Linked DNA regions of Homo sapiens: region 2 is linked to region 1. The links come from fine-mapping of genetic effects on gene expression. A gene starts in region 1. The other region holds a variant in brackets. All regions are shown on one strand. Distances are from middle to middle. Region 1 holds the start of SCT (secretin). Region 2 overlaps PHRF1 (PHD and ring finger domains 1).

What was found.
Region 2: its variant is fine-mapped to the expression of SCT in putamen (GTEx, PIP above 0.99).

Annotation. Positions count from the first base shown.
Region 1 is chr11:626,117-628,823 of GRCh38, reverse strand. SCT (secretin) reads left to right here and starts at 1,643. Exons shown (of 4, transcript NM_021920.4): 1 at 1,643-1,751; 2 at 1,835-1,936; 3 at 2,035-2,127; 4 at 2,294-2,515. The coding sequence starts at 1,681. The coding sequence ends at 2,393. RefSeq lists a silencer at 1,721-2,015 and an enhancer at 1,609-2,109.
Region 2 is chr11:604,636-607,633 of GRCh38, reverse strand. PHRF1 (PHD and ring finger domains 1) reads right to left here. Exons shown (of 18, transcript NM_001286581.2): 11 at 2,334-2,515; 12 at 1,910-2,029; 13 at 1,038-1,192; 14 at 1-568. Among named protein-coding and RNA genes, the nearest start is that of IRF7, 9.8 kb to the left of the region's middle. RefSeq lists an enhancer at 2,357-2,975. The variant G/C (reference allele first, on the strand shown) is at 1,374.

The DNA of each region.
Region 1 (2,707 bases):
GGGGAAAATATTGTGGCTGATTTAACAGACGGATACAGTGCATGACTCGCAACCACAGCAGAACATCAAAGGGCTTGACGGCCATTTCTCCGTCCACTCCATGATGTATAAATGGCTCACAGACACTTGAGAACATGCTCCACATCGCTGGCCATTAGGGAGATGCCAATCAAAACCGCAGCGAGACACCACGTCGCACCCACCGGCATCGTTAGTACGCGACAAACAAAAAGCCACAAAGTAGCAAGTGTTGGCGAGGACAAGAACCGTGTCCCTGCTGCGCTGCTGGGAAGACAGTTTGGCGTTTCCTCAGAATATTTAACACATAATTACTCTGTCACCCAGCAATTCCCTCATAACTATACACCAAGAACGCTTGAAAACGGGATCGGGAAGCGCCGTTTGCACACCCACGTTCACAGCAGCGTTACTCGCCGTCGCCCCAAAGGGGAGGCAGCCCAGGTGTCCATCAAGATGCCCACAGATGAGCGGACGCGGTCGATGCGGTCCCTGCACACAGCGGGACACAGTTCCCCACAAAAGGGAAGGAGATTCCCACACAGGCCAGGCCGCGGCGGCGAAGGCGGAGGATGCTGCGCTGAGAATCCAGCCGGTCTCCAAAGGACAAATCCCGTGAGGCTCCCCCTGCGCGCAGTCCCTGGAAGCGCTGAATCCACAGACAGAAAGTGGACGGGGCGCCGGGGCTGAGGAGGGGAGGGGGCGTTTGATGGGGACAGAGCTTCATTCTGGGAGGACAGGAGAGTCTGAGAACGGATTTTGGGAGGACGGGAGCGTCTGTGAACGGATTTTGGGAGGACGGGAGCGTCTGTGAACGGATTTTGGGAGGACGGGAGCGTCTGTGAACAGATTTTGAGAGGACGGGAGAGTCTGAGAACGGATTTTGGGAGGACGGAAGAGTCTGAGAATGGATTTTTGGAGGACGGAAGAGTCTGAGAACGGATTTTGGGAGGACGGGAGCGTCTGTGAACGATTTTGGGAGGACGGGAGCGTCTGTGAACGATTTTGGGAGGACGGGAGCGTCTGTGAACGATTTTGGGAGGACGGGAGCGTCTGTGAACGGATTTTGGGAGGACGGGAGCGTCTGTGAACGGATTTTGGGAGGACGGGAGCGTCTGTGAACGGATTTTGGGAGGACGGGAAAGTCTGAGAACGGATGGTGGGGATGGATGCACCGAATGATCCTGAATCGCGCACTTCAAAGCAGATAAAATGGCAACACCGGCCCCCCAACAGTCACGCCACGCTGAAGCTGGAGACGAACTCGCCCCAGCAAGGTGCTCCAGGGGCCTCCGGAACTCCGGCCGCAGCCCCTTCCCCGGGGCCCCCCAGTCCCCCCCCAAACCCTCCCCCAAGCCCTCCGGCCCCTCCGCCCCCGCAGGCTCCGAGGCTTCGCGGTGCGGTTCCCTCTGCGGGTCCCAGGCCCGCGCTCCGTTCGCCCCCCAGGCCGGGACGTCCCCCTCCCCCAGCCGGCCGAGGGGCGCCAGCGCGGCGGAGGGGGCGGGAGGCCGGGCCGGGGCGACAGCTGGGGGGGCGGCCCTGACCTTCCCGGGATCGCTGGGCGCGGCCGGGCCGTCCCCTTTCCGGGCGCCGCCATAAAGGGGCCTTGCGGGGGCCCGGGGCCGTGGCCGCAGCGCTCAGCTCCTGCGCCCCGACCCCGCCATGGCCCCCCGGCCCCTCCTGCTGCTGCTGCTGCTCCTCGGGGGCTCCGCCGCGCGCCCCGCGCCCCCCAGGTGAGCCGCCCGCCAGGCCCGCCCGCCCCCCGGGCCCCACCCGCCCCCAGTGCGCCCTGACCCCGACCCCCGACCGCCCGCAGGGCCCGGCGACACTCAGACGGGACGTTCACCAGCGAGCTCAGCCGCCTGCGGGAGGGCGCGCGGCTCCAGCGGCTGCTACAGGGCCTGGTGGGGAAGCGCAGGTGAGGCCGGGTGGGGTGGGGGGTCCTGGCGTGGTGCCCCAGCAGCAACGCGCGACCCCCCAGCTCCAGGACTAACTCTGTTTTGGGGCGGGGGGCAGCGAGCAGGACGCAGAGAACAGCATGGCCTGGACCAGGCTCAGCGCGGGTCTGCTCTGCCCGTCAGGGTCCAACATGCCCATCCTGCAGGCCTGGTGAGCACCCGCCCCACCGCAGACCCCACTCCAGACCCCACCCCAGACCCCTCCTTCTGTCCTGGCCTCCCCGGGTCAGCGCTGGTGGCCACTGGAGGCCCAATTCCAGCAGCGGGGCCGGGGTCTCCAGCCCCAGCCCTCAGACCCTCACGTGCTGTCTCTGCAGGATGCCCCTGGACGGGACCTGGTCTCCCTGGCTGCCCCCTGGGCCTATGGTTTCAGAACCAGCTGGCGCTGCTGCAGAAGGAACCTTGCGGCCCAGATGAGGAAGGAACCCCCTCACCACCTGCCCGGCCCAGGAGCGCAGCTGCATTTGGGGTGGGGGGCAGGATGGGGGAGAGGGGGAGGGGTGGTACTTGGCACCAATAAAGGAGGAATCAGACCCAGACGCTGGGAGTTGTCTGTGTCCACTCAGTGTAATCGAGGCAACCCCTGTGTAGCGGGGCTGAGGGATGGATGGAGGCCCATCCACCCAGGAGGGACTGACCACACCCAGCTGCCCTTTACACCTGCAGGCACGGCGGCCCCTCATCCTTATCTCTGGCATCAGGGCCACCTCCTGTACCTCGACTAAGTACTG
Region 2 (2,998 bases), 21 kb after region 1:
CCTCGCCCTGGCTGCCCGGTGCCCTCCCTGCCAGTCAGTCGGCTGATGCAGGCACTGGGGATCTCAATGCTCTGCCCGTGGGCCGGGGCCGCATCCCGTCTGCCACCACCGTCATCTCTCCTGATCTTTGGTATCCTGGGTAGCTCAGAGATGTCTGTTCTTCTGGGCGCTGGCTTCAGGGGAGGCCCCGGCACCACACTGCGACATGGGGGCTTAGAATCTCTGCTTGAGATCTTAGACGCGGCAGAGGCAAGGGGCAAGGTGTGCTTGTTGGTGCCGTTGAACCAGGGGCTGTGGCTCTGTCTGAAGCCAGGCACACTCCCATTTGACAAGTTCCGAGCCTGAACCGCCCCAGGGGCTGCTGGCAAGTCCAGCCTCACAGGCGCCCCCGCGGTGCGGGCGGGGGTGCGGGACCTGCCTTGACAGCTGAGCCCTGTGCTCTGTGGCCTGTTTCCTGACGGGCCTTGGGCCGGGCTCCCGGAGGGCAGTGCTCGGGGCTGCAGGCAGCCCTTGAATCCTTCTTCCCCTCTGGACAGACTGCCTGAGTTTCGCTGAAAAGAAACTGGAGCTAAAAAACAAAAAAGTCAATGGCAATCATTTCCCACCCACTCTTCTTAAATGTCAGTGGTTTAATTTTTATCACAACTGGTTTTCTGTGAGGTCGTGCGCTTTAAACTCCTGTCTGCCTGTTGAGGTGGACACCTCGCCTTTCCACACCCGGAGAGCTGCTTCAACAGCCACTCTGTGGATGACAAAGTACAGTGCCTGAGGCCATCAGGACACGATATTAACCAGGGGCGGGGGCAGTACCCCATCAGGACATGTTCTTATGAACATGAAGCTGTGGGGCTGGGTAAGAACTCGGAGCTAACTGAGAAACTGCTCAAGAAGGGAAATCAATGCAGAAAAATGGCTGAGGAATGGTCCCCCCAACTTCAGCTACATCTTCCGTGACTGAGACATGGGCTGAGTGCTTGCGAACAGCCTGAGGACCAGCAGCCCACAGAGGAAGGGGCCGTGGCAGGGAAGGCACTCACCCGCCCTCTTGGCGCTGAGGGAGCCGTCGCGGTGGATGATGACATCACTGCTGCCCAGCATCAGGAGGCTCTGGCCCGACAGGATGCTGCCCAGCAGGTCAGGCACTGGCTCCTCCTCCAAGTCTGGCTCTGGCACCGCGGCAGGGAGGCGCCTCCTGTGGGCACAGACCCAAGGCCCTGCCGTCACTGCCTCCCACGGCCTGAGGGCCCGCACCCAGGCAGAGCCCCGCAGCAGGCGGGAGCCAGGGAGAGTGGGGCTGGGCCGGGCCTGCGCCTCCCCCACAGCCCTGGCTCCGGCTGCTGTTCTAAGAGGTGCTCACCGGGGCCTCCCAGAGG[G/C]AGGGAGGGAGGGAGCCCCACCTCGCAGCTCTGGCCCCAGGGAAACCAGGCGTTTTTGGGAGAAGTCACCTCTGGTGCCTTTGCCACCCCCAACTCCACCAACAGGTGGGAGGGGGCAGACAAGCACCTTTACCTGTTTTGTTGGTTTTGGTTAATTTTTTGTTCTTGTGGCGAAACAAAAGAACTGGCCAAAAGGTGACCTCTGATGACAGCCTTATTCACCAGGGCCACTGCTCCTGCCCGAGGCGGTGTCCCTGTGCTGGTGGCTCTCAGGCCGGGGTGGGGGGCAGAGGGGCCACCTCGTGGAGCTGCAGCAACTCCCAGTCCACGCTCACAGGCAGGCCGTGGCCTCTGACACAGGATGGGCTGCAGCACTGCCTCACGCCAAGGGCCGACTGATGAGCATGACAGCTGAGGGGAGGTGCTGACGCCACCCAGGGCCACAGAGAGCCAGGCTATCACGGCCCCACCCTAGAACTCCCATCCGATGCCCAACTGCTGCCCCCACCTCCCCAGAAGCCTCTGCCCTCACACACCTGGAAAGCCCCACGGAGACGGGCCTGGCCACGGGCTGGTGGGACTGCAGGGCTGACCGGGACAGAGCCCGTCTCTTGGCACTCAGAGGGGAAAGAGGGTTTGCAGAAAGCTCTTCACTGCTAGAGGGGAGGACACAGGCCAAAGGGAACAAGTGACTCCCAGCTCCCAGAAACCCCAGCCCAGGGAGACGGCACGGAGGAGGATGGCCGAGCACTGGCCATGTGGCGGCACGTGTGATTCGGGCCCCGAACCAGACCTCTGAGTTCCACGCCACCCACCTGCACCGTATGGCGGTGGGAGGAATGGCCACCCTCACTCTCAAACACAAAACCTAACGCCTCCGCATGCACCTCGGGGCCCCGTGCCCACAGCCCCCAGGGAGAGGAGCGGGTGCCCAGGCAGGACCATCACCAGTTCACTCACCTGTCGAAGGGATCCAGCTCATAAGGATCTCCAAACAGAGACAGAGAGGCAGCTCCAATATCCGCTCTCAGCAGCCCCAAAGAGGGCTCCACTGGCTTCAACACTGACGGGATGCAGCTGCTGTGAACAGGCCTGCGCAGGCCCAGCGTCCGCGCGATTCGAGAGCGAGTGGTGGCTTCACTCTGAATCCAGTAACAAAGAAAAAGATGAACAGAGAGACGGGGATGGCATCTACGAGGGCTCTGTAAATGCCACGTGAAGCCTTCATCAGCAACAGTGAACACTAGAGCCGGAAAATACTAAGCCAAAGTCAATGGGCTTCTCAGGCATGATGACCGACAAGCAGGAACAATGCCGCACACATCGGCCGTGAAGCTCCTGCAGGCTACCAGAGGCTCTCGGGCATTGCAGTGTCACCATCACGTCGTAGTAGCATTAAGTGAAAACTCACAAAGAGGGAAACAAAAAATTCAACTGATGACTGACAGTAAAACCCCTTGATGGCTCACATCTGTAATCCCAGCATTCTGGGAGCCCAAGGCAGACAGATCATTTGAGGCCAGCTTGAGACCAGCCTGGCCAACATGGTGAAACCCCATCTCTACTAAAAATACAAAAATTAGCTGGGCCTGGTGGCGGACGCCTGTAATCCCAGCTACTCAGGA